Homo sapiens: one gene and its partners. The protein of the gene in region 2 interacts with the protein of the main gene of each other region in a biochemical or structural test. Each region holds a gene or a part of one and is shown on either strand. Other genes may lie near its edges. The genes, in order: DLGAP1, MYO5A, RPH3A and BMF.

Region 1 (7,027 bases), on a different chromosome or scaffold from region 2:
TGCTTAGAATTTGGCTATGCCTGCCAAGTGGGATTGGCCTCTCTTCCTTACCGCCCCTCTTACAAAAAAAGAAAAGGTTAAGTCAGAGAATTGGTGAAACAAAGGCCCTCTGCAACTCTAGGCCCAGTTATCAGAACAGAGTGGTGCTTGCCAAGGAGTCAGGGACAGATCTGCATGGCGGGCTTTAAGGAGGACAGTGCCAGGCAACGCAAAGTATCATTATCTTGTCAAATGTTATTCATGTGTATCTGTTCTATCAGACACTTCTGTTTTCTGTGACCTTGGACAAGATACTGCCAGAGAACTGTTGTGAGGGCAAATAAAACAGCACCTGTCAAAGTCTCTAGGCCATCGTCAGGGGTATTGTGAGGGCAAGATGAATATTCTTTCATGCACTGATATTTTCCCTTCTTCCTGGAGAGGGTTGCTACTGCTTTATGGTCCAATTCTCCCTGATCTGGATTGGCCGCATTTGAAATTGGTGACTCTGTCCTGGGCGCAGGGTTTGCCACGGCACTGACTAGAATTTTGGAATCCCAGTAGTTTGAAGCTCCTATTTCGTGTCTCTCAAAGTATGAAAAAATAGAGAAAGCCTTCAAGTGTTTGTGGAATGGAACTGTGTCTTAAGAATGAGACAGGACACACAAGGTTCATCTGGACTAGCCACCTGTCCCACACGGAAGTGCTTTCCATCACTTCTGTGGCAGGTGCCCATCTCTCTCTTCCACATCCTTGTCCTGATCAGAAGAGCTCATCATCTGTCACGGGAACACCTTTCCAGCTTTTGGCAACAAGAACTGTTAGTTACTTGCTATGGTCTGAATGTCTGTGCTCCTCTAAAACTCATATGTTGAAACCTAATTACCAATGTATAAATAGTAAGACAGGGGGCCTATAGGAGGTGAGTTGGTCACAGGGGCAGAGTCCTCATGAATAGGGTTACTACGCTTATCAAGGAGGCCCAGGAAGCTTGTCTGCTGCCTCCATCGTGAGGCTGCAGCAAGAAGGCGCCATCTTTGAAACAGAGAGCAGCCCTTGCCAGACACCAAACCTGCCAGTATCTTAATCTTGAACTTCCCAGCCTCCAGAACTGTGAGCAATAAATTTCTATTGTTTATAAATTACCCAGTCTAGGGTATTTTGTTATAGCAGCCTGAAAGGACTGAGGTATTACTTATTGAAGTTTTTTTTTAGCTAATTAGGAAGAAAGGTTTTGCTAAGTAAAATACTTTTATAAAACAGAATTTCCAGAATATTTCAAGGACTCAAATACATATTTACTGATCCCCTGTTATGCGTCAGAGGGTCTGGTGATATGAAGATGAGTAAGACAAGAATAATTTCTGTTTTCAGAAAGCTTACTTTTTAGTGGAAGAGAAAGATACATCGGTTATTATAAAATAATGTGGGAAGTACCTGAAGGACAAATACACAGGGCATTACAGGAGCACCAGGGCGATACCCAGTTCAGCTTGAACAACAAATTAGGCCTGGAACAACAGATGGTTGGGCAGTTCCCTCATGTTCATTATCTTGGGACTTTGCCAGCAGTGTACATTTCAAAATACAAATACGTTTCTCTTTCATCCTGAACATAGGCTGAGAAGCTGGTTTTCTGACAAGATTTTCAACCTTTCAAATATATGTTATTGTATTACAATACAACTGACTTGTTTTCCTAGCTCCTTTAGTTTTTCCTAAATCTTTATACAATGAGTATCCTCACACATCATTATAGAGTTGGGTTGAGAGAGGTAGATCAAGTCTCAGACTGAAAGGCCCATTAAAAGAAAACAACAGATAAGTAGTTTCCAAGAGTCCTGTTGAAAGCCAGCCAGGAGCTGGGTGGGTGGCTCATGCCTGTAATTCTGGCATTTTGGGAGGCAGAAGTGGGGGGATTGCTTGAGGCCAGGAGTTTGAGATCAGCCTGGGCAACACAGTGAGAATCTATCTCTATAAAATTTTTTAAAAATTAGCCAGGCATGGTGGTGCACACCTGTAGTGACAGCTCCTCATGAGGCTGAGGTGGGAGGATCACTTGGGCCCAGGACGTCCAGGCTACAGTGAGCTATGATCCCATCACTGCACTCCAGCCTGGGTCACAGGGCAAGACTCTGCCAAAAGAAAGAAAAGAAAACCAAAGAAAGGAGGGAAGAAAAAGAAAGAAAGAGAGAGAGAGAACACCAATCAGGAAGCTAGAAGGAGAACCAAATTTGAGAATTGAAATCTGAAAGTTTGTGCCATTGAGCAGTGGCACGGGATGTCATTGTTCCTTAGTTGCTGGCATTTTTCCTAGGAAAATCTGATAAACTGTGAGTATGTCCACAAGGAGAAAAGTGAATAAGATGATCCAACTAAGACTTTCTTACTGAAAACTACCCCTGCTCCCACTGCTGCTGAGACATACCTTGTTTACCTGTCACCAGGGCAAAGACCTAATTGTGCTTGGGGGTCAACACTCAGGTGAGTCTGCAGTGGCACTAACAGGGGCAAATGTCAAGGAGATTTACTTTTCCACTGCCAAGTTGTTTGCACTCATAATATGAAGAAGCAAAGGAAACCCATTTATGGGTTTTACAGAAACCCGTTAATGAATTTCCTAACTTGCCCATAAAGGCAAGCGATAAGCTAGTCAGTCATTTGACAGGGGTCAGGCAGGAGGAGCAGACTGGAGCTGTGAGTGAGAGAGTGGACACAGTGAAGATATCCCCAGTCTGATGACAACTGTTATTTTCCAGACTCCATTTCATTAAAAAAATGATTCCCCTAGGGAAAAACTCACTACTCTTTGACACCACTAGTTTGGTGCATTTAGTAAATGCACTTAACATGATTTATAGTAGATGTTAAATCTAATTAAGAAATTATTGGCCGGGCGCTGTGGCTCACCCCTGTAATCTCAGCACTTTGGGAGGCCGAGACGGGTGGATCACCTGAGGTCAGGAGTTCAAGACCAGACTGGCCAACATGGTGAAACCCCGTCTCTACTAAAAATACAAAAATTAGCTTGGCATGGTGGCAGGTGCCTGTAATCCCAGCTACTCAGGAGGCTGAGGCAGGAGAATCACTTGAACCCAGGAGACAGAGGTTGCAGTGAGCCAAAATCAGGCCATTGCACTCCAGCCTGGGTGACAAGAGCAAGACTCTGTCTTTTAAAAAAAAAATTATTGTTTTTGTTACGTACGATAATGCATGATAATATTTTACCTTTTTTTGAGTCGGAGTCTCACTCTGTCACCCAGGCTGGAGTGCAGTAGCTGCGATCTCTGTTCACCGCAAACTCAATCTCACGGGTTCAAGCCATTCTCTGCCTCAGCCTCCCGAGTAGCTGGGATCACAGGGGCCAATCTCCACACCCGACTAATTTTTGTATTTTTACGAGAGATGGGGTTTTACCATGTTGGCCAGGCTGGTCTAGAACTCCTGACCTCAAGTGATCTACCCGCCTCAGCCTCCCAAAGTGCTAGGATTATAGGCATGAGCCACCGCACAAGGCCTATGATTATACATATAAAAAATGTTTTCTATAAGTGTGAGCTACATAGGGAAGTGACACGATGCCTTGGATTTTCTTTTTTTCTTTTTTTGGAGACAGAGTTTCACTCTGTTGCCTAGGCTAGAGTGCAGTGGCACAGTCTCAGCTTGCCGCAACCTCTGCCTCTGGGTTTAAGCAATTCTCCTGCCTCAGCCTCCTAAGTAGCTGGGATTACAGGCGTGTGCCATTGCACCTGGCTAATTTTTGTATTTTTAATAGAAATGGTGTTTCACCATATTGGCTATGCTGGTCTTGAACTCCTGACCTCAAGCGATCCTCCTGCCTTGGCCTCCCAAAGTGCTGGGATTACAGGTATGAGCCACCACACCTGGTGCTGGATTTTCTTAAAAATACTCTGACAACAATAACTACAAATGGTGGAGACAAGACTGGCCAGTTGTTGAAGCAGGTGACGAGTACATGGGGACTCATCATGTTAAACTCTACTTTTGTGCATGTTTAAAAATGTTCATAATAGGCCGGGCACAGTGGCTTATGCCTGTAATCCCAGCACTTTGGGAGGCCGAGGCGGGTGGATCACCTGAGCTCAGGAGTTCAAGACCAGCCTGACCAACATGGTGAAACCCCGTCTCTACTAAAAATACCAAAGTAGCTGGGTGTGGTGGCACATGCCTGTAATCCCAGCTACCTGGAGGCTGAGGCAGGAGAATCACTTGAACCCTGGAGGCAGACGTTGCGGTGAGCCAAGATGGCACCATTGCACTCCAGCCTGGGCAACAAGACCAAAACTCCATCTCAAAAAAAAAAAAGAAAAAAAAAGAAAAAGCTCATAATAAAAATTGAAAAAGTAATTTAAAAAACAAGTCTAAAAAGTTACTTCATAGCAATACTCTTTTAGATGCTTTGCACACAGACATGAAGCAGGCATTAATGCCTACCACCAAATTTCCTTGTTTCAAAAATATCATCAGTTGGAGGATCCACCATTAATTTAATAATAATGTTTCAGAGGAAAATAAACATACAACATTAAAATACATACTGATTATATATAAGCTACATTCTAATTTCAGAATTGTTGAAAACATGTAAAACATGCCTCAGAATTGAGGTAATTTGATTATTTTTCTTTTTCAACTGTTAATATAATTTGACAATTTTTCTTTTTCAATTGTTAATTTTTCTTTTTCAAATGTTAAAAGGTCAAGTTTGAAAATAATAGTGTGCAGGCTAGGCACGGTGGCTCATGCCTGTAATCCCAGCGCTTTGGGAGGCCGAGGTGGGCGGATTGCCTGAGTTCAGTAGTTTGAGACCAGCCTGGGCAACATGGCGAAACCCCGTCTCTACCAAAAATACAAAAATCAGCTGCACATGGGGTGCATGCCTGTAGTCCCAACTACTTGGGAGGTCAAGGCTGGGGTGAGCCATGATTGCGCCACTCCAACTTGGGTGAGGAGTGAGGCCCTGTCTGAAAAAAGAAAGAAAAGAATAGTGTGCGAAAAAGAGTGTCCATTATTTATTTTATGTATTCATCGTGTATTTCACTTTAGCCCATTCAACTGTAATAAGATTATAAAATGTGTTTCTTTGGCAGCTAAAGGGTTTGCCCCTGTAAATCCTAAGAGAAAGTGCCTGTCAAACAGGCTTAAGAATACAAATAGGTGGGGGTTTCTAGCGGCCTATACGTTATAAGCCTTGTTTTAATGCTGTATGTTAATGAGAATAACAAAATCATAAAGAATATAAATCCCCAATGTACCTGTATCTATGGACCTTGAAAAAAGTTAGTATTATTTATATATTTATTTTTAGAGATGGGTTCTTGCTCTGTCACCCAGGCTGGAGTGCAGTGGTGTGATCATAGCTCACTGCAGCCTCTAACCCCTGGACTCAAGTGATCCTTCCACCTCAGTCTCTCGAAGAGCTGGGACTACAGGTGGGCACCACTGCACTGGGCTAGTTAGAATTATTTTCTTTTTTTATTTAAAAAGAATTTTTGTGGGTATATAGTAGATGTATATATTCATAGGATACATGAGATGTTTTGATTAGAATTATTTTCAATCCCCTGAGGATCAGCAACATTCCAGGATCATCTTGGAGAAGAGGGACCAAGTTAGAGACATGAAAGCACCTCCACACAGAGCTTGGTATTTTCAGAAAGAAAAAGAACGTCATGGGCCTAGAGCTAAGGACAGTGTTATATCTACCCAGGAGTTTTCTTGGTTTTGTGCTGTGCAGGGACTTCTGGACTCAGCTGGAATCACCTAGCTCTCCTGCATGTTCTGGTTTGGGGTGTGGAACGTCAAGGTTATACAAGTGAAGCTGGCAGAGAAGAAAACAACAAGGTCTGCACACACAAAGCAACCCCAGCCCCAGGGGACGGGTGTGGCACGTGGTGGCATTACTTACTGTCTTCGGGCAGGTTGTTTTCCCGTTCTTCCCGCTCCATCTGTTGACACCACCCCTCCATGCGGTCTCGCTCTGCCTGGAGAAGCTTCAGGAACCAGTGGCCATCCCGGTGGCACACTGACCTTTGCACGGCCTCCAGAGGGTCTTCAGTGATAGAGTCAATCCAGGGGTCCGGAGGAGGCAGAATAGAGGGGTCAAAATCCGTGTCAAAGTCATCATCGGCGGCACAGGCATGGTAATGGTTTCCTGAGCCCTGAATGCTGACTGTGGAGGTGCTGGCATCGCGGGAGAACTGTCTGGCCATGGGGCCAGGACACGAATTGTCCTCTATAGATTCCAGAGAATTTTCCAGATTATCATGGAAGTCCAGGTCGGCCTGTACTGCTGTCGTCACACTGTTGGATCGAGTGAACCTGCGGAAGCTTGGGAGAATAGAAAAAAGAAATTTAGTTAGAGGATATTTCTTTCTTTCCTTCCTTCCTTCCTTCCTTCCTTTCTTTCTTTTTTTTTTTTTTTTGACAGAGTCTCACTCTGTCTCCCAGGCTGGAGTGCAAGTGGCGTGATCTCGGCTCACAGCAACCTCCACCTCCCAGGTTCAAGCGATTCTCCCACCTCAGCCTCCCGAGTAGCTGAGATTACAGGTGTATGCCACCACATCTGGTTAATTTTTGTATTTTTAGTAGAGAAGGGGTTTCACTGTGTTGAACAGGTGGGTCTCGAACTACTGGCCTCAAGTGATCTGCCTGCCTCTGCCTCCCAAAGTGCTGGGATTACAGGTGTGAGCCACCGTGCCTGGCAAGGATATTTCTTGAAGCAAAACTACTTTCTACTTTACTTGGCAGGTGTGACCATTAGAAGTCTCATCTTCTCAATCTTCTCTGTGTGTGTGTGTGTGTGTGTGTGTGTGTGTGTGTGTGTGTTGGGGGTGGTGGTGGCAGGGGTAGACCCTTGAGGCAAGCATATTGATTGTCATAGCTTCAATGTGAAGAGCACGAATCTCATTTTTGCTCAATATGGAATATTAAAGCATATCAAGAGAAATTTTATAGGTGGAAAAGTGCTGAACTATTAAAGCCAGTAGAATGTGCAGCTCTGTCATCCATTACCTGAAGTGTCCAA
Region 2 (7,027 bases):
CTCATCCATGAACAGAGGTCACGGCAATACAGATCCTCTTCAACGCGCATGCACACGACACCCCTCCTAGCACCCATCAACACCTACGGCATGCACACACTGCAGTGCCCACGCACACACTGACTTGTATATGGCCTGCCCAGTGACAGCCCTCGGAAGGCACCCAGTGACTTGGGCTCCCCTGTGCTGAGGACCTAAACTGGGAAGGTGGCCTATAGCTGCAGGCCTGTCCAGGCTGCACAGCTCACCTGGTGGCTCCAATAAAGACTCTGATGGGTGTGGGGAGAGTAACTTTCCTCTTAATTTCAGAGAGGCTTTTGCTGTTTCCTGTCTTTTTGGTTGAGACAACCTGCTACCAATTAATGCCCAAACAGAGTATTGCATCCTCCCAGAGAGCACTGATTCATGACAGAAGTCAAGCTGAGTTATAGCAAGTAACTATGACAAAAAAGAAAACCACCTGGCGCTGAGCACTTGGTCTCCTTAAAACAAGTAACTTGGTACGCAGCACTTGCTCGGTTCCCACATGCCAGCTGCCAACTCTGATAAAAAAGCACCCCTTGCTGGCCAGGGGCATTCCACACGTACCAGGAGGGGCAGCACGTGACCTCACGACATTTTTAAAGTCTCCTGCATCACAGGTGCCCACACCACCACTGCTCCATATGGGAAAGCAGGACAGCCAGAGGGCTGTGCGACATCAGGCAAGTCACTGCCCCTATCTCTATTCCCAAGCTATCATCAGAAATGATTGTAGAAGCGACCCCACCTACCGTCCATGCTGCTGTGAGGATGAAACGAGGTAACAGAGGAAAGCGCCGCAGGAAAGCATATCTGGACCCAGGTACTGTTTCTGCATTACTTTCAACAGGATGCACTAGTTTTGGCTCTGTTTTATCACTAAGCAGCTGACATTACCCAGAGGATCCTTGACTATGCCTGCTAAGGAACTCTATGAATTAGTGACGGGGGTGTGTGTGTGTGTATGTGTGTGTGTGTGTGTGTAAGAGAGAAAGGGCATTGTGTGAGGACTTCTCAGGATGGTGGCAGGTGCCCATTTTCCTAGGGTTACCATGAAAGTTATTTCTCACAACAATCACTGCACTGAAATTATAATAATATAGTATTTTCATAGCCTCCCCTAACATGTAGCTGTAACCTTAGTAAAAGATTTGATCTATATTACACATAATTACTCACCCAGAAAGAGCCAACTATGAGCTATCCATGGAAATGAAGAAATAACACAGCAAATTCTCCAAACTGACAATAATCCCCAAATTCCCTATCAGTTGGCTTCGGAATATGTTTTTGTGCTTCTGCACCTGACAAAAGAAGCATCAGATATGTGGAAATTTTTTAAACTTCCAAAGGAATTAGAAGCTACACTTTGTGGATTTTATCCCATATTTATCTTCCCTCCTTTTAGAGTTACTCTCAGGCAGATCAAAGCCTTAACCTGAGGAAAAGCTGCAAAAAGGGAAATTACTTTTAAATTTTCAGCTTCAAGTTGTAAGGGTGTGAGGTGAGTCTGCATGTAGTAAGGTGAATGGGGAGGGGATTATTAAGATAAAGAACTGTTGTGACTTTTAAGATCTCTTCCTTTGAATTCCCATTGTGTGTCACAGAGGAATTAAGAAAAAGTTGATGACTGATCTTCTGAAGGAATGCATGCAGAGAAGTAAGAACAACAAGGACTGTGCAAAGATTGGGCTGATGGTAAGCACCAGGAAGGCCAGCAGGGGCAACTGAGGACTGACTCCATCCACCTGCCTTCAGTGCACAGTCAAACAGCAGGCAACGGGATAGACGATTAAGTTGAGGGAAGGGGAAGAGTGAATGAGTAGGGGAAAGGCTGGCAGGGTGTGTCTGAAGTTGGGTGAGAAAGTGTGGCTGACAGAGAGAAAGAACCTCAGAGGGAAAGCAATCCTCAAACTGGCCCAAAGATCCCCATAGTCGGCAGAATCTTCTTGTACCTTCAAGAAAATGGTATACAGAATCATTTACTGGGCCTTGGGGTTCCCTGGTTACAAGGTATTCTTGTCAATGACTAAAAATCTCCAGGCCACCAAGAGAGGTTAATTCAGACCCCCATCTGGAGCTCTGGGTAGACCTGGGAGGAAGCTGGAGCCCTGGAATAGCAGAACCTTTGTGCCACCATCGCTGAACAGGAGAAACCACCAAGGGCAGCTGTAGGAGCTCTGGCTCCAGCACTTGACAGGACAAAGACAGGAGATGGGAGAGAAGGGCTCAGACCACAGCCTTTCTTTCATGACGCTTCAGTACATGAGCTGTCCGGAGTAAAAAAAAGGGCTGCATGGCAGTGACAGCTACAGCATGACCTGGAAGACCTGAGAAGATTCAGGGTGCACGTTGAGTCGTGCTACACAGGATGAAGCTGGGGGAGGTCTGGGAGATTTCCAGGGCTGAGGCGGACAGCCTGTACCACGTTGCATTTTCTTAGCAACTCCCCAACTTACAGCCTATCGGATGCTGTTAGATTCTGACACATTTGGTACGAACCAAATGGCTATGACTTAATTGTGCATTGAAAACCGCATTGACAACCAGGAAAAACTGGGAGAATTTGATGCAATTGGTAGTGTTTCTGGTTGATACTGCAAATAAATAAATAAATGTATTCAAACTGAATAAAGCAATACATGATGTAATAAAAATTACTTAAACTAATTATAATACAAATATAGTAGGACCTTCTAAAAGCATGTACATAAATCATGTACATTTAAGAAAGGTTACAGCTACACAAACTTGTGATTTTACATTTGATTAATCCTAAGGAATTGACAGGCACTACACACTGGTCTTTCCATCAGAGAATGGACTTACTGAGTAACTGCAGCTTTTTCTCTCTAGAATCTAAGGGCTGAGAAGAGAGAATTTTAAATGTGGAGGAGATGTTAAGAATCAGTGTCCAACTCTCTTATTTTATAAACGAGGAACTTGAGGCCCATGTAAATTAACAGACAGTATTTATCTTTTAATAACAATCTTTATCACTGATATGAAGCTGTTTGACTTCCATAAATATTGCACATATTTTAATAAGATTTATAGACCATCTAACAGTTAAATTTATATAACCTATGATTGTAATTCAGAACCAGAGTTTCTAATGAAAACTAATAATTTGCTTTTGTGCAACCTGAAGGATTTATTGTATAAGATTCCTAAGAAAAATGGTGAATATGTTTAACTAGAATTTCAGAATGAAAACTTACAGAATCTGGGTCTTAATGAACCAAATCCTCTGTAAAATTCAACAATCTTCTATTTCTTATATAAGTCTTCTTAAAGTATTTCTAATATGATGCTTTTAAAATTATCTAGTGGCATCTGAGAACACTTATAGAAGCTGCAAAGCCTTAAAAACTGAATCATAATGAAATATTTATTATATACCTTCTTTTGCATAATCAAAGTTTCAAGACCTGAATCGTGAATATTCTGACAATCCTCTCTAGATAGTGAGTGAGATTCTTTTTTTTTCCAAGGCAGTGTCTCTCTCTGTCACCCAGGCTGGAGTGCAGTGGTTCGATCTCATTGCAATCTCCGCCTCCCAGGTTTAATCGATTCTCGTGCCTCAGCCTCCCGAGTAGCTGGGATTACAGGCAAGTGCCACCACGCCCGGCTAATTTTTGTATTTTTAGTAGAGACAGGGTTTCGCCATGTTGGCCAGGCTGGTCTCCAACTCCTAACCTGAAGTGATCCGCCCACCTTGGCTTCCCAAAGTGCTGGGATTACAGGCGTGAGCCACCGCGCCCAGCCGAGATTAATTCTTAATAAATTAAGAAGAGAGAAAACCTGTCAAGGTTGAAAATATGCACTGAAGGAATCAGATCTGGTAGTTAAAAATAAGTCACTTCACAGAACACTGTACCCTGACGCAATATCCACCCAGGGAAAATTAATGAGCACATCAATGTAATACATCCTGAATAAATAATGACATCAACAATAGCCACTTTGTCTAATCCTACCCCTAAATGTCAAGCATTTTGTCATATTACTACATGACTTTCCAGTGTCTGCTACTTGTGCAGGTGAATCTGTAGGTATTTGCATATAATCCAGTTAAAACTGTGATCTGATTGAATTGTAAACAGAATTGACAAGAGAAACTTATTGTAGTGCCTAATATCACTTACATTTTAAGAAGACAGTATGTAGCAGCAATTTAAAATGCTCAGTAAACTATAGTACAAATGGACATCTATACTATTTAGCAAACCAACATTCCTTTAATATCTCTATATCATAGTGACACAAATGAGGAATTACTTTACATATTGCCAGTTTATTTCTTTGAACCAGTTTAACAATATCAACATAATTGATTACTAAACTGACATGATATGTACTCAATGGAGACTTTTCTTTCCATTCTCCTGTTTAGTGCAGAGGAGGTTCTTTGGTGCCTTCCTAACAACAGCTCATCTATGGAAGTTATACTTTTTATACCATTCAAACTCAGTGCTAAGGATTTAAAATAAATGCTGCCAGCTGAAGACACATTTTTCTCCTCCTTTCCTTCCTCCCTTCCTTCCATCATTCTCCTGTATGTAAACTCACGGTACCTAGTTGGTTAAGGATGAGTGTTGCTATAAAGATAACACAGCACGAAAGAGCCTATCTTTGTTTCCAAAGTGATGAAAGTATTCTAGGGAGATTTCCAGTTAATGACTTCTCATTTGGGAGATAATCAGTACTTTCTCTTTAAAAATGTATTTTCAGTAACTCACTGGAAATAATGGGTTCTTATTTCGGGCAAGAAATGTATTGTCAATTTTTGCCTGGACATCACTTTCAGACCCGTGAAATGAAGCCCAGGCCGAGGCTGGCTGGAATCTGGATGGTTTCTAGTGCGAGGGAAGATGGGTTGAAAGGAAAGGTGACAGGAAAGATGTGTTTAGCATCCATGAGCAGCTGGGGAGAGTCTTTCCTGTCTCGTAAACGCATCTGAGAAGATTAGGAAAAAAAATAAACAGAGCATCAGTTCTTTGAATCTAAAAGACTTTTTTCTACTAAAATTTCTACCCTCAAATTCTCAACTAATGAAGAATGTTTACTTTTGTTTTAAACTCACTTCATTTTCCCAATTAACTATTATCAAAAAAGTTAGTGCATTGTAAAATAAGATAATAAAAGATAACACATTATCCTTCAATAAATTACAAAATGTCCATTCAAAAGACTGTGTTGGTGAATCAAAGAAGAAGATGGGAGCTCTTACCTGTATAGTACGAATGAACGACACAGAGACTCTTTCTTCAAACTCATTAACTGGAGTATACAAATTCAACACTTTCACAATCTGTGAGAAATGAAATGATCAAAGTTTTTGGCATATTATCAAATACACACTGGGTACCTATAATCTGGAAAATTAAAAGGATCTGTGCGTACAGATTTCAGTTCTACTCAGGGGTGGGCTGGGACCAGAAGGAAGGAGGAGCTGGTCTGCACATTTACCTTTATCTGAATTTTTACAAGAGAATGTATCAATGTAATGTTTGTGTAATATTGTAAGAAGCTGTGTAAATTTCGAAGATATTCAAATAGCACAAGAGAATAAAACATGAAAAATAAATGTCCGCACTTCCATCCTTCCAGTCTCCCAAAGTGGCAATTGTTAACCATGTCCTGAACACCCCCTCTAGCTGCTATAAATATTCTAGTTCATTTTATTTTTATACAAATGGGATTCATTCTATTAATACTATTCTGCAACTTTTCTCCATATAAAAATGTTAGCCGTATTAATACAATTATCTCTTTTGAATGTTTTTTAAATCATATTTTTATAAAAGATCATAAATAACATGAATAACAAAAGCCCCTAAAGAAATTAATCAATTAGAGAGTATGAAGTTCTTTTTTAAAAAGTTCAATAATTTTTTTTTGTAAAATGGTCATGTCTCTTTTCTAATGAAAATAAATCATCGTCTATATAAGGTAGATATTTCCATTTTCAAGGTATTGTCTAAACCTGTGCTGTCCAATACAACAGTAGTAGTCACTAGCCACATGTGGCTATTAACACAAAATGAAAATAAAAGTTGAATGCAGGACAGTGCTGATCTATAGGAAAATAAATTAAGCACCAGAGAACTAGAAAGTGGGCATGTTGTTATCAGGTCTGTGGGTGACAAACTGAATTAGGGATCAGTCTCTCGGAGGCAAGTATTTGAATTTTAAAAAGTGGGACCACTTTGTTAACTAATATTTGCTAAATAAATAAACTGCAGGTCTGCCTCACTCTGTGAAATATGCTTAAAGTATATTTAAGTATTAAAGTATATTCTTTAGAAGTTGAATGGCAGCCAACTTCTATAAAGTTGGGCTTCCTCCAGGGTATTCTTACTTTCCACACTTGCAGAAACTGGGAGGAAATCTCAGGACCATTGTTCTGTCAGATAGTTCTGCTTTATTCTTAGTAAGAAGTTATGCAAACATGAATTCAACATTAAGAAGCTGCAAGTCTTGATTCTGATTGTCTACTGATTGACTTTTTTTTTTTTTGAGATGAAGTCTCTGTGCAGTGGCACAATCTTGGCTCACTGCCACTTCTGCCTCCCAGGTTCAAGTCATTCTCCTGCCTCAGCCTCCCAAGTAGCTGGGATTACAGGCACCCGCCACAATGCCTGGCTAATTTTTGTATTTTTGTAGAGATGGGGTTTCACCATGTTGGCCTGGCTGGTCTTGAACTCCTGACCTCAGGTGATCTGTCTGCCTCAGCCTCCCAAAGTGCTGGGATTACAGGTGTGAGCCAGCACGCCTGGCCTACTGATTTTTTCTGTTGCCCAGGCTGGAGTGCAGTGGTGCAATCTTGGCTCACTGCAACCTCCGTCTCCCAGGTTCCAGCAATTCTCCTGCCTCAGCCTCCAGAGTAGCTGGGATTACAGGTGCCTGCCACCATGCCCGGCTAATTTTTGTATTTTTAGTAGAGATGGGGTTTCACCATGTTGGTCAGGCTGGTCTCAAACTGATTGAGTTTTAATTGTAT
Region 3 (7,027 bases), on a different chromosome or scaffold from region 2:
ATATATTCTATTGTATATATATGTACACTATATTATGTGTGTGTATATATATATACACTATATAAATACACAATAGAATATTGTGTATTCTTAATTTATGCCCAGTGTTCCATTATTGGAATGCTAAGCTTGTAGGAGTTATTTATATCCTACTGCTCAAAGTCACCGTCAAGGTCTGGTTTTTCACACAAAAATATTGCAACCTCCAGCATAATGGGTTAAAAAGGAAAGAAATTCTGACACATGCTACAACACGGGTGAACCTTGAAGACATTATGCTAGGTGGAATAAGCCAGTCATGAAAGGACAAATTCTGTATTATTCTACTGATACGCAGTACCTAGAGTAGTCAAAACCACAGATACAGAATCAAAAAGAGTGGTTACCAGGGGCTGGGCAGAGAGGAGTGTGGAATTATTTAATGGATACAAAGTTTCAGTTTGTAATGACAAAAAAGTTCTGCAGATGGATAGTGGCATGGTTGTGTAACCGTGTGAATGTACTTTACACCACTGAATTGTACACATGAAAATGGTTAAAATGGTAGATTTTATGTTATATATATTTTACAACAATTAAAAAATAATTTTAAAAGGCATTGTCAAAAGAAACTTTACCTCTGGAAGAGAAAAGAAAAAGTACAGGCTTTGAGATTGGACACACAGGGAATTAATTCTCATTCTAACCAATTATCAGTTGTGTGACCTAAGGCAAGTAGCATCGCCTCTCTGAGGCTCAGTTTCTCCATTCTGTAAAATGCGAATAACAGAAGTCTCATACGTGGATTTTGGAGTTGTGGCAAACATTAAATGAGATAATGTATGTAAAAGAACTTGAGACGGCATTTGGCACATAGTAAACACTCTATAAATACTTCCTGATGTTGAGGATCTGGAAGTTCCTCTTTCTCTGTTCATCTGAACCATAGGTTCATTGTCGGGGGGAGGTCTGGGCAGATTATGAAGCACAAGGTACGTGCCCAGCTCTGTTGCCAATAAGAGGAAGTGAAGTGCTAAGCTACAAACACACAATTCAGGAAGAGAAGGCCAGATGTATGTGGGACATAAATATTCAGCCAATCTGACTTAGACCCAGACACAGCCCCTTCCTGCAAAAGAAATGAAGCCGCTTTGAGGTCTCAGACAAGGGGCCATGGAACAAAGATGTTCCAATATGGTAGACATTTCCTTCAAAGTCCTGTGCTCCATGACCCCTACCAATGGGCACTCTTACCAAATAAACCCACCAAGAGTGAGGCCAGAAATGTGAGGTACCCAATACGAGCACATGTCAGTGACATCCTGGCCATGCTGACCTATGCCATATGCCCAGACAGCAGAGGCCATTGCCAAGGGGAGACTTGGAGAGATCTTTGAGAGTGAAGCATCCTTACTTTGTTCGAAGCCTAGGGGCATTTTTCCCCCAGGGTTTTTTTTTTTTTTTTTTTGAGGCGGGGAGAAAAAAAATCATGCTTTCTGACATATGGTATTACAGCAAGAAAAGGATCTAACCAAAATTATGGATGTCTAGAGCCAGAATTGTTTCTGAATCCTGTCTTTCCTCTACCATAGACTAAAACCAGTATCTGGAATAGAACACGGCACACAGTAGGACTCAATAAATGCTGCCTAAGTAAATGAATAAAAACACAGTTCCCCTCATTCTTTTTGAGTCTCCCTATCCAGAGAACTGTCTCTGGATTTGCCCATCTTGCTCACCTGCTGGGCTCCGGCTGGAGTCTCCAGCACCCCCACTGTGGTCCCAGCTCTCTGAATCTCGGCTAGATGAGCTCATTCGTGCCTCGGAGGCCCTGCGCACGGGAGGCCCATAGTTTCCTCGCCCGGGAGCAGAGGCTGGGTCAGGGCCTGGAAAGAAGAGCATGAATTGAGTAGAGAAAGGGCATCGAGGGAATTAGGTGAATTCGTGTCTCAAATGACAAAACAGAGTCAGCAGAACCCACCTGTCTTCTGACCCGGGCCCCTCCTATCTTCACTGTCACCTGGAGAAAGAAAACACAAATTATGAGGAGTACTGGTTTTCTGGTGTCTGGAAAACCGGTACTTAAGAAGCCTACAAAGGGGTTCATTGACTATTGCCTAAGAATATGTTTTAAAAATTAAAAGTCTTTCTCCCAACCTCCTCTTTGATCTAGCTCCTGTTTACAATTTCACATTTTTTTTTGCATGCACAAACACATATGAGCATACACAGGCTTTATAAAGAACAATTATGCTATACAGCCTTCTCAGCCTAGAAGAACTAGGAAGAAGGAGTATTTTAGTGGTGAAAACTGGGGACTCCTCAGGGATGCAATATATGTTGGCAATTTGGTGATTCTCTGCAAGGAGTAGAAATTGCTCTTGCCTTGTCAGGAAGAAAACATTTGTTGAATGCCTCTTAGGTGGCAGGCATTGTGCTAAGTGCCTTGATAAGTTATCTTATGAAAAACGCTGTACCCTTCCTTTCAGAAGTACCGCCTGCACTCAATCTGGAATTGTCATTTAGTCCAGATTTTATCACTTAGCATCAATTGAAATTATTGCAAGGGCTTTATCTGGTCAGTCCTAGTGGTCTAGTCCAACTAAAATGTATTTTTACTATGGTTGCTTTTTAAAATTTTTACTGTTTTGCTTCTCCCTCTTAATCATTTTAATAATTAATCATAATACTTGGATAATAGTGATAATGTCAATAGTAGCAATTTAGTAGCAGTAATTTTCTTTTACTGATTTCCTTCTATTCATCTTTCACTTTTAATTAGTCCAAATCAGACTTGCTTATGGATAGTAGGAGAAATAACAGGGTCCAGGAAGGCCTTCTCAGCAAGCCGAGTATTCTCCCAGGCTCCAGTGTGATCTTGGTGGTGAAAGTCTCTCTCAGTTCCTAATTTTAATTTCCACCTCTTGTACACTAGATATGCCACCAGGGATGACAATGAAGCCTCTGGGCGGCTTGGCATTGCTGGAGAGTTCCCTGTGCTACCCTCTTGGTAACGATTTATGGTGAACTCTGAAGGAGATATAGGAGTCCTAGACCCAAGTGCAGAAGCTGACCATGCAACAACTGGGTGGAAACACAGACATGATGTCAGGCCATCCCTCAGGTAGACCAGTTGGCTAAGATCTGTCCTTGGTCCTGAAAGAAGCACCTGTTTTGTCCTACCTCGAGCTGGAGCCCGGGCAGGGTGCTTGGGCTCAGGAGCAGGCTGTTCAGGGGCAGCAGGCTCACTGACAGGCTGCTGGGGCTTGGTCTTCTTTATAGGCATAGGCTGTGGGAGGACCTGTTTGGGGAAGCCTTTGAAGAACCACGCTCCAGAACGCTTCCACACCTTGGGGAGGAGAGACAGGGATTGAAGATGTGGCAGCCAAGCGCTGTTGCTCTTACCTTCATGAGTGCCCATTTTTATCTTTCCTCCTCATCCAAAGCACACTGACACAATAGCCAGCACACTTTTATTATTACTACAGAGCCCTGCACAATTCATATTTATTCAGCCCATCCACCCTGAAAACTCAGTAGAAAGGGCTTCAGTTTACCCATGAAGAAAGTGGAGTTTGGATGGAGAAAGGGGAATATCCAAAATCTTAAGGACTGGTCCAATAGTACACAGCTAGAGAATGGAAAAACAAGGGCTCAACTCCAAGTCTTCCATCTCTTAAATGTGGCATGCTCTCCACTACACTGGTTGTTGTGAAGAGGGTGATCTACCTACAACTTCCCCAAGACCTCTGGCCTTTCTCCTGGCCCTGTGGGTCAGAACAGAGCAGCACACCTAGGACGGTGTGTGAAACATCTTCCATTGCCCCGTCAGATTCATTCTCCACCCTGCTCTGTGCCCCAGGAGGCTGACCAGTATGGGCTGCACTAACTGGACTCCACCAAATAAACCTTGACCTCTGTCTTCAGGTTTAGTTGGTCAAGGAGAGCACCAGGGATTACAACAAAGCCTCTTGAAAGCTTGGATTGCTGAAGAGTTCTCTGGGCAAATAAAGAGTTTGTAGCAAAGAGGAGGGTGGGACTACGGTATTTATTTCCTTGGCTCCCCCCAACCCACTGCTAGTTGGACAGTGACTGCATTCCTGTTAGGCTACACCTATCTTCCTTTCTGGTAACCATTCCCTCCTCTATCTCTTCAGCCTTAGAAGGGGAAACAGCAAACCTGTTTTTGCTGGTGCTAGGGTGACTCGCCAACCCTTGCTGATTCCTCTTAGTTCTGCCCGGACCTTTGTCAATAACACCTTCATCAAGCCCTTGATTATCCTACTGAAGTGTGCCAATGCTTTCCTGCCAGGCCCCTGACAGAAACTGAGGAGAACATGGTTATTGAAACACGGTTTCAAAGGCAGGACTCTGCAGCAGTGGATGGGGGATGAAAAAATTGGGAGAAGGAAAAAGGACTTAATTGGGGTAAGATGAGTAAGAAGCAGGACTGGGGAAGAGAAGGATGCCTGGGAGAAAGAAAGAGGACAAAGTAAAGAGAAATCGCCGAGAAAAGGGTGTGAAGATGTGAGAAATAACAAAATGAGGAAAGGGGAGAAAAAAGCAGTAAGGATTAGAGGAAGAAAAGGGCTCAAACAAGAGGAGAGTGTGAGGAAATAAAAAAATGGAAATAAGAAATGGAATAGAGAGAGAGAAAGGAAAGATGTTGGGAGAGGAAGACCCATAAGGTGAGAAATGGGGTCAAAGAAAGAACAGAGGCCAGAGGGCGATGAACAGAGAGGGAAGAAGAGAGGATGGGAAGGAAGAAAAAAAGTCACAGAAGCAGAGGAGGAGAAATAATTCATCCAAATACTCTGAGGTTGTTCTGTCAATGTTCACTGCTGAGCTGGGTCCTTTCATACAAACCTCTTAAGGCACCTCTTAAGCTGGCCAAGAAAGGAGGGTGATCTAGGCACCAGGTGGGACCAGGGCACTCACCTCCCTCTGCTCAATGCAGATTTTGCAGAGCCACACAGAATGCAGGCGGTTGTTGGTCTCCACTCCGCACTTGGTGCAGACGTTCTGTGGATGAAACACAGCCAACACACTCAGATGAGCCATGCTCATGGGAGGCATGGCAACGTAGCCCCCCACTTTCTCTTGGTGGATGTAAAGAGGAAGAACTTGCTTCCATTTCTCCCACTTCCTTCTATGAGCAAGGCCAGTTAGAATAAAACTCCAATTTGAGTCTTGTTTCCAATAAGAACTTGAGTCATTCCCAAGCACTGGATGAAGGAATTCTTTAAGAGTCCCTGTGGGATCTGAATTTTCATCATCCACACTGGGGAGATCACTGACATACTTTTTTCTAAAGAGGAATGACCATATATCCATTTTTTATCTTAATTTATTTCCTCTTTATTTCCAAAACGGACCTGAGACAACCTAGACTATGACTAGAAGTTTAACTCCCCAAGGAGAAGAAAGTTATCTGAGAAAATGCCATGGCTGTGTGATGAAATACTGTATTTTTTATTGAATTTCCTGGAAGTTAAGACAATTAGGAAAACTTAATGGGTCACAAAATTCTCGCTATCGAGTTGACTGGCAAGTTTTTCAGAATAAACTTTTCGCAAGATTTCATTCTACATGTCAAATGTGACATCAAGCTGGAGATGATGACATTGTAGATGTCTCCAGCTGGGTTGTTCAACTGAACTCTTGGAGTCCGGCAGACCCCAGGACAGTTGTATCTTTGCTCCCAAACTGTCAAGTGCAGACAGTTTAAGGAAAGGTTAGAGGGTGAACAGAGTTCAGGATTACTCGCCTTTGAGAACAAATGCTTTGGAAGCCAAATAATTCTAACTTGGCTTTCTAAGTTTCTTGTATCAGAACCCAGGATACGAGAAAACTGAAAGCATTCCACATACACACAAGTATAAACATGTGCTTAGCATGCTCTTTAAACTGACACATAACTTGCTAAGGTACAACCAGGATATCTGCAGGCTCAATCATTGCTCATGTTCTGCCACAGGCTCCCTAGTTCACCCTGGATGGAGCTCAGCTCTAAGAGACAGAAGGCTCAGAGTGGCTTCCAGGGAGGAACCAGGATCAGGGTTACGTTGGAAGACAGTAGGGCATGGAAGCATCCCAGAAAAAAACCATATCCTGGCAAGTGATCTTCAGGATCCAAGCTCCACCCCCAAGACCCAGTGACCCCTACAGCTGGAGCCTAGGACTTTCCCCTCTGCAGGTGCTGCACAGGGAAGAAGGGAGAAGAGGATGATGATACCTTCTTACAGTCCTCACATACTACACAGGCAGAGCCCAGCATCCCCAGCTGTTCTCCACACAGTATGCAGCGGTTCACCCCATCTCCAGCCACGTTCTTCCTCATGTTTTCTAGGCGGTCCACCAGGCGTCTGGAAGCAGAGACAAGGTAAATAAGGACCTTGTAGGACTGGGGACCACCAGCATACCCCACAGTGTCAGGTTGATAGTCTTCACCTTCTTTGAGTCATACGCTGTTGTGCGTCTGATGACAGTTGTGAACTCTTCCCCAAGAAAAGGCACATGCACATAAAATTCTGACGCATTTTCAGAATACCAAAGACCTCCCTCCCACACCCCTCAAAGTCCCATCTATTCTACTGACTTTGGATTAAGAACCTTATCTAGTCCTTTCTATCTTCTGTCACCTCCTCCCAGAAACTGCCTTCTGAGCGTTAAATTTATTTAGGTCTATTTATCTGTCTCCATCATGCCTTTACTTGGATGTCTTCATAGGCATCTCAAACTTACCCTTTCAAACTCAACTTTTCATCTTGGCTACTCTCCATCTCCAGCTCTAGCAAACCTGCTTCCCAGTCTTGGGAAATGTCACCACCATCTACATACTTGCTCAAACCAGAAACCCCGTGGCAGGGGGGTCTTCCTTGACCCCCTCCTCTCCTGACATTCAATGACCCAACCGAATTCTTTGGCTCCACCCCAGCCCAACTGAATTAGAAATTCTGCCCTGAAATTGTCAAGTACAGACAGTTTAAGGAAAGGGTAGAGGGTGAACAGAACGCAGGAAGACTCCCCTTTGAAAATGAATGTCCTG
Region 4 (7,027 bases), about 12 Mb from region 2:
GATCTGCCACCACACACGATTTTGGTTCTGCTGGTGCTGAAGGGAGAAAAAAAAAAAAGACCAACATAACTCCCAAACGCAATCTTAGACGACTCCCTCTCATTTCCAGTAAAAGTTCAGATCTCCAAGTCTCACGGCTGGCACTTTAATCCTATCAGTACAGCTCACAGCGGGGAGGAGGGGGAGGTGAAAGAGACACTGCCATGTGGAGGAGAGAGTTGAGTTCTCCAAAAACAATTGCAGTTTTAACATTAAAAAGAAAAGACTAGGCTCTATATGCACTATGCACAAGAGGATTAAGCTTTTTCCCCTGCTTGCAGGATTTTCCAGAGTTTAGCCAAGTGCTGCTTTTAATCAGATTGGCTCCCGAGCCCCTCAAACCTCAGCTGCATGAACAACAAACTGGCTTCAGAAAGAGAAGAAGTGCCCCCCTCTCTCCCCCGACTCCAAAGTAACACAGAGAACAAGGGGAAAGGGGGGGCCTCCATCTGCAAGTGATTTGACACTGTGAAGGTCAAAGGGTTAATCTTCAATTTAAACCACACTGCTGAGGCAGCAAAAATCTGATTTCATCCAGTGCAAACACGCACACACACAGACTCACACACACACACACACACACACCCTTGTGCGCCCGCCCGCTCTCCCTCCCCAGCATCTCCAGCTCGGTGCTGCCCTTTTTATAGATGCTCTTGACAGTAAGCCATAAATAATCCCTCTTGGAGCGCTCTCCTACTGACTGGAGCCAATTAAACATTAAGCAAGAACATACTTGAAAACAAAACAAAAACAAAGAATATATACTATGCTCTGGAGGTTATCCCAGGTCCTACTGTCAGGCTGGGAAGCTAGGGGCAAAGTTCAGGGGTCAGTGGCTCACCAGATTGGGGCTGGTGCCCTGCCCACACAGGTACCATTTCCCAGGAGAGGCCTGGGGGGGTGGAAACTGGGGGGTGCTGGAAGAGGCGGTCTTTGTTCTCTCTTTGTCTGCCAGGGCAGGAGGACTGGGCGGGGGCCTCTCCACAGGGTTCTCACTGGACAGGGGAATAAAAACCTAGTGTGCAGAAAGGAGCCAGCACGGGCTGGACTTGGATTACTTCAGTGGCCCCGTCAGCAAGCAAGTTTACATGAGGTGTCCAAGCCTTCTCTTAAACTGTCTTTAACCACAGCACCAGCCCCCACCAGGCAACTACTCCTGGTCAGATGGGAAGAGGAGAGAGGAAGCCAGCGGCACAGCTGGAAAGGGGGCCCAGGTTGCCTGGACTCCCAGAGCTTCCAGGTTCTGTCCAGCCCTGGCCTCCCTGACCTTTCCCAGGGCCACCATGCAGGTTGCTGGCTTCCCCTTCACGCTGCCCTAGGCCACAAAAAGAGAGGCATCCAGGCAGCTGGCCTCAGGGCCTGACAACCCAGGTGAACACGGAATGCCCCCGTCCATCATGGCAACAGCATTCCTCCTTCCCCCGTGGAAGAGCCTGGAAAACAACCCGGCAAGCTGGAGGCGCAGCTCCTGCCCGGAGGGGAAGGGAAATCGGGCGTGCCACAGAAGAGGCCTGGCAGACAGAGGGTGGGGAGATGGATGGCTTCCTCGTGTTTTGTAAACAAAGATGAGTAAAAAGAGGAAACACACCCGGCTTAACAAAATCTGGTTAGAGTAAAACAGCGTGAAAATGGACTCAGCTGCAAACCCGAAGCCTCCGGCCTGCAGCAGCTGGGCCAAAGACCCCCTCTCCTCCCCTCCCCAGCTGCTGACCGAGACAGGTGCAGAGGTCATGTGGCCGAACAAGAGGAGAATCCAGGAGCAGACTCATCCCTGGAGAGGCCAGTCTGCTGGAATTCCAGTTCTCCTGAGGTGCTTGTCTGAGAAGACCGGTGGCAAGAACAATCATCACCTCATAATAGTAACGTGGGGTTAGGGTGGCAGTCGGGGGTGGGGAGGTGCCAGGCTCTGTTCTGTGTGTTCTGCATCCTTGCTTCTCAAAGGGTGGTCCATGGACTAGCAGCCTCAGCATCATCAGAGAGCTGCCTGGAAATGCAGACCCAGCATCAGAAGATTCCCCAGGTGATTTTGAGGCACATTATCATGCCCATTACTTAGCGACCACATAGCTAGTTTAAGTGGCAGGGACTGGACTGAACCTAGACCATCTGGCCCTAGAGCTATGTCCCTTCCCATTATCTCTGTGCTCAGAGTGCCACTACCTTTCTTTATACCAAAGCAGACCCTCTAGCCTCCCCTTTACTAAATCATCTCAAAACAGCTCAATGGCCAAGGAAAGCAGATGAGAATTCTATGATTTGGGGCTGAGGCAATTCTCATCTCTGTATGCCTCAGTTTTCTCCCAAATTCCACTAATGGAGGCCACCTACTCCCTGGGCAACTTGAGATCTCTGAAGATGAGGCACAGACTCCCATCATCTGGGAGCGTTGGGGGACTCAGAAGCAGCTGTGGGCCAGAGAGTGCTTTCAGACAGGAAGGCTGAGGTCTTGCAGGGGACCCAGGCAGGCCTAGGTGCAGGAGGCAGGATACATGGGCCGGCCCTTGGGAAGGAACTAGTTTCCATGCCTCTGCGTGTGACAGTCCTTAAGGCTCATGAATTGGTAAGGAAGGCTCTATGGTGCATGGATCCCCAGGGACCAGGAATCAGAGGACCTGGCTTTCGGGTTGGATCTCCCATCAACCTGCTCATGAGTTCTCTCTTGGCTTATAAGGAAAATGCAGGTATTGTACTAGATCAATGGTTTCTAAACCCAACTGTGTCACTAAGCCAGCTGAGGTGCTCTTGTAAGTATAGAGTCTCCAGGCCTCTCCCAGACCCACTGGGTCAGAATTTCAAGGAAGGGTCCCAGGAATCTGTATACTGAACAAGCTCCCTTGGTGACATTTTAGAGATCAGAAATCATTTATTGTATATTTTAATCATAAAAGCAATACATGTTAATTGTAGAAATATTGGAAAATACAAGACATTACAGAGGAGGAAATAAAGTCACTCATGATCCTCCAGGCTAGAAAACACTTCACGTGTTGGTGTTTTCTTCAGTCCCTTTCGATCTCTTTCCACCAAAGTAATGTCTTACCCCACTGGCCAAGCCAGAGGTCAATCCTGCCCAGGTGGTTCTGTGGCAGCCAGGCCACAGCCTTTTGGAAACCACAAAGGTGCTCTCCAACCCTAAGGAGTTTGTCATCCACGACTACCTTCAGGATTACAACTCAGAGCTCCAACAACTGAATTCTGTCAGCTGAGTGTAGGGCCTGGGAACCACCCATGGGCCCATGAGCCCTCTCTGGCTACAAGCAGATACCACACAGGCTCCCTTTGGCCTTCTCCCGCCTCAGGGCAGCCCTCACAAGACCCTTTTCCATGAGGAAACCAAGATAATCAAAGAATGCCCTGATTACAAAATACAACAATAAATAAAATTTTTCCTAAAAGTTTAACAAAAGGGCCTGACTAGAAAGGAAAGAAAAAAGACTTGAAGGGAGGCCAGTGGGAGAAACAGTGAGGAGGAAGGAAGTTGGCCTTCACTGAACAGGATGAAGAACACAAAGATACCAAAACACCAGAGAACGTGGGATCTTCCACAAGAGGGTGTGGAGGAGAAGGGGAAGAGAGGGGAACCAGGAATGAGTGTACTTGGCCTCTGACCCTCAGGCACCCGGCACAGCACCCAGCGCACAATCTGAGATCAACAAGGGCAGATCCCCAGAACCAGGCCTGCCCTCCTAGACTCAGCTAGGGAACCCCTCACAGAATGGGAGTTCCCAGAATACACAGTCAGGGTGACCCAAGGGTCGGGGCTGGGATACAGAGGAGGGGAAGCTCACCCTAGAGCCCTCGGACTCACATGGTTTAGAAGGCAGGGCCAAGGAATGGAGGGAATGAATAGAGGTGAATGCCCCCAGGGAAGGTGCCCTAACATGGTAGATCACGGTGTTCTCTTCAATGAAGAGAGCACAAGCAGGCATCAGAGCCCCATGCGGCTTCTTTGGCCCAGCCTCATTTTCTTGCCACGGACAGGGGATGAAGGCAGTCAGCTGACAAATGTTTCAATCCCTACTGTGTGCAACACCCTATGCCTGAATGCACAGCTGCTCATCCTGTGTAATGGGGAACATGGAAGGCATACAGTAGGCACTCAACAAGGGCATGCTGGACCGACTACAGAGGAGTCAGCCCTGAAAGATAACCCACTTGTCTGAGGCCAGGAACAACTGATGTCTGGCCAGGTCTAAAGATGTACTTTATGTGATAGTATCAGCCTCACACCTGGGGAGAGGCCCAACTAGTAAAAGGCCTCCTTTTTTTTTTTTTTTTTTTTTTTTCTCTAAAGAGCTGGCTGTGGTGTCTGACAAGGTTGGATTACATAAATCAAACTCTGTTTCATCCCACACAGCCTCTGCCCTAAGCACAAAGCGTGTTCCCTACGCTCCCTGGATAAGAATCTCCCTCTGCCTCTCCCCTTTTCAGATCCAATTCATACCCTCTGGGGGCTCTGTGTGTCACCAGTGTTCCAGATGCTCCAGCTAGAGCTAATTCACCCCAAAGTATCAGAGGAAGAAGCAAAGCGAAGCCGTGTGCAGCTCTAAAAGAACCTAACTCACAAAATGCAAATTTACCAAACAGAGAGCAACTTATAATATCTCAGATACAGAACAGAGCACTTTCCTTTCTTCTCATGTGATCCTCACGATAGGAAGAGCAGGTATTAATCAACCCATTTTAGAGCGACGGAAACAATGGCTCAGAAAAGTCATCCCAAGTTAGTTGGGAGGGGTGTAATTTGAGGCCCTGACTTCTGACTCCAAAGCTATGTTCCTTCACTAAAATTTTACAGTGTGTTTATTGACATTATGAAAATAGCATTACCTTTTTCAAAGCAAATCACCACTGATCTGCTCCCCTAGTATGCTTAAAGACATTGTTTCCAGATCATTAACTATTTAGTAAGGACGCTGTGGACCAGAAAAAAATAACCCTTTCAGAGGCAGAGCTAACTGAAGATCAAACAGAAATAAAGCTAAAACTGGTCTGAAATTATAACTTCAGACTGTGATCTGAAACCACACTCAATCTCTTCAAAATGCAGAATTGTCTATACTCTAGGGGAAGGTGCACAGTCCACGATGTGAAGTTTTCCTCCCTCTTCCCTTTTCCCTGTCATTCTCTAAACCTACTCAGGCCAAGGCTGAAAGAAAGAGCCTTGCAATTAAGAACAGGAACATTGAGAGCAGGAAAATTCCTGCTTGAAGGAAGCTAGGAAGATGTTTTCTGTTGAAATAAGGACATTTTAATGAAGCACCCAACTGAGCTATCAAGCACCCAACTGAGCTACCAAGCACCCAACTGAGCTACCAAGCACCCAACTGAGCTACCAAGCACCTAACTGAGCTACCAAACACCTGAGCTACCAAGCACCCAACTGAGCTACCAAGCACCTAACTGAGCTACCAAGCACCCAACTGAGCTACTAAGCACCCAACTGAGCTAAGAGTTATGTGGATACAAAGATGATTAAAATATTATAAACTTGGTTCTCAATTGTTTTACAATATAATGGGGAGAAGAGCAAGAGCACCTAGCTGAGTATCACATGAGGCAGAGCGGGTTGGGGCAGCAAATGTGTGCTTCCTTGTACCCTTGTTTTCCGGAATGTGATTGCTGGGCAGCAGGTATGGGGCGATTGGACCATGGTTCCAGAATCCATCAAATCTGTATGACGCCTAGCTCAGCAAATTACGGTGTGACTTGGACATGTTACCTCACTTCTCTGAGCCTCAGTTTCCTATAACACAGTGGCAATGGAGTCTAAAAGTCCAAGGTTGCTGTGGTGATTACGTAAGAAAAATATACATGAAGCACTGGGCCTGGGGGCTGCAAGGAGCAGGCTCCTCCTTCCCTGGGGAGCACAAGGAAAACCTGGGACTCACTGGCTTTGCAGAGCACGTCTCTCAATATGCTCTGCAACAGGGCCGGCCTGGGGAGCACCATCTTCCCGGCAGACTCACGAAATCCCTGGGAGATCCCTGACTTTCTGCTTTGAGACTGCCCACAGCAGCCACAGGCCATGGGGCTCAGGATTCTAGGCTGCCAGGGTAAGCCAAGGATTCTGAAACCCAGAGGGCAACCCCTTGGACCCAGTGGGCCCACTGCCTCAGACTGCTTCTGACCCAGAGGCCCGAGGAACGAGCAACGTGGCAAAACGGAAAAGGAAAAAAAAGACTCCTTGCCAAGAGCTTCCTCAGCCCAGCCAGCAGTGTTAACAGGACATTGAAGCCACCATGGCCACGCCCATTGCTTCTCTAAGGAAAAAAGAGCAGTCCGAAGCCAGCCAGCTCTCAGTGGAAGATGGCAAGGCTTCCTCTAACGCAACTGGAAGACACTGGCTCCAGCCACTGGGGGTTGAGGGGTACGGTTCGGGGACAGAGCTGTGCTGCACCATCCATGTCCCCAGACCCTTGTTTTGCACCTCCACAGCCTGGAGGGAGGAACTACTGAGACCCTTACTCAGTTTCCTTCAAGCTGAGAACAGCTCCATCAAACTACTGGGCAACTTCTTCAGAGCTCAGAAGGGCACAATGGTGTGTGCCCTGGTTAAAGAAGGGAGAGGGAGGGGGTTCGGGGGACAAGCCTGTTGTGTGTATTATGCTATGCAAAATAACCCCAGGTTCTGACACTCGACTTGGGGTCTTTTCAGCTGACTGTTCATGTCCTGTCCAGGACCAGGTCAAGGCAAACCAGGCAAGGAGGAAGGATGGAACCCTCCCCTTCACACACGGACTGATTGTGTGCTCTGGTCATGGAACATGACCTCTTGGCTGCCAGACATGGATCAAAAGGCAAACCAGTCATTTTTCTTTAACCTTCTTTCTTTGTGTCTCCCTTAGTCCCCTCCTCCCATCACCCACTTTCCAAAAAAAAAAGCCAATTTCCATCCCATGGCAGGCCTTGGTGGGGAGGGAATGAACTCTCCGGAACTACAAGGCCCTTCTCCTGGAAGAGAGAGCAGTCAGGTGCAGAGTGTGTG

Evidence for each region.
Region 1: the proteins of MYO5A (region 2) and DLGAP1 form a complex in vitro, tested with the Homo sapiens proteins (one study listed by BioGRID).
Region 3: the proteins of MYO5A (region 2) and RPH3A form a complex in vitro, tested with the Homo sapiens proteins (one study listed by BioGRID).
Region 4: the proteins of MYO5A (region 2) and BMF form a complex in vitro, tested with the Homo sapiens proteins (one study listed by BioGRID).

The regions. Positions count from the first base shown.
Region 1 is NC_000018.10:3,528,286-3,535,312, forward strand, and holds part of DLGAP1 (disks large-associated protein 1), read right to left. Parts: intron 6,331-7,027; coding exon 5,909-6,330; intron 1-5,908. UniProt on the Homo sapiens protein: Part of the postsynaptic scaffold in neuronal cells.
Region 2 is NC_000015.10:52,308,869-52,315,895, forward strand, and holds part of MYO5A (unconventional myosin-Va), read right to left. Parts: intron 5,336-7,027; coding exon 5,255-5,335; intron 4,981-5,254; coding exon 4,828-4,980; 3' UTR 1-4,827. UniProt on the Homo sapiens protein: Processive actin-based motor that can move in large steps approximating the 36-nm pseudo-repeat of the actin filament. Can hydrolyze ATP in the presence of actin, which is essential for its function as a motor protein. Involved in melanosome transport.
Region 3 is NC_000012.12:112,864,731-112,871,757, reverse strand, and holds part of RPH3A (rabphilin-3A), read right to left. Parts: intron 6,345-7,027; coding exon 6,215-6,344; intron 5,002-6,214; coding exon 4,918-5,001; intron 3,329-4,917; coding exon 3,163-3,328; intron 2,000-3,162; coding exon 1,961-1,999; intron 1,866-1,960; coding exon 1,719-1,865; intron 1-1,718. UniProt on the Homo sapiens protein: Plays an essential role in docking and fusion steps of regulated exocytosis.
Region 4 is NC_000015.10:40,091,853-40,098,879, forward strand, and holds part of BMF (bcl-2-modifying factor), read right to left. Parts: intron 2,024-7,027; exon of another isoform or gene 1,751-2,023; intron 37-1,750; coding exon 1-36. UniProt on the Homo sapiens protein: May play a role in apoptosis. Isoform 1 seems to be the main initiator.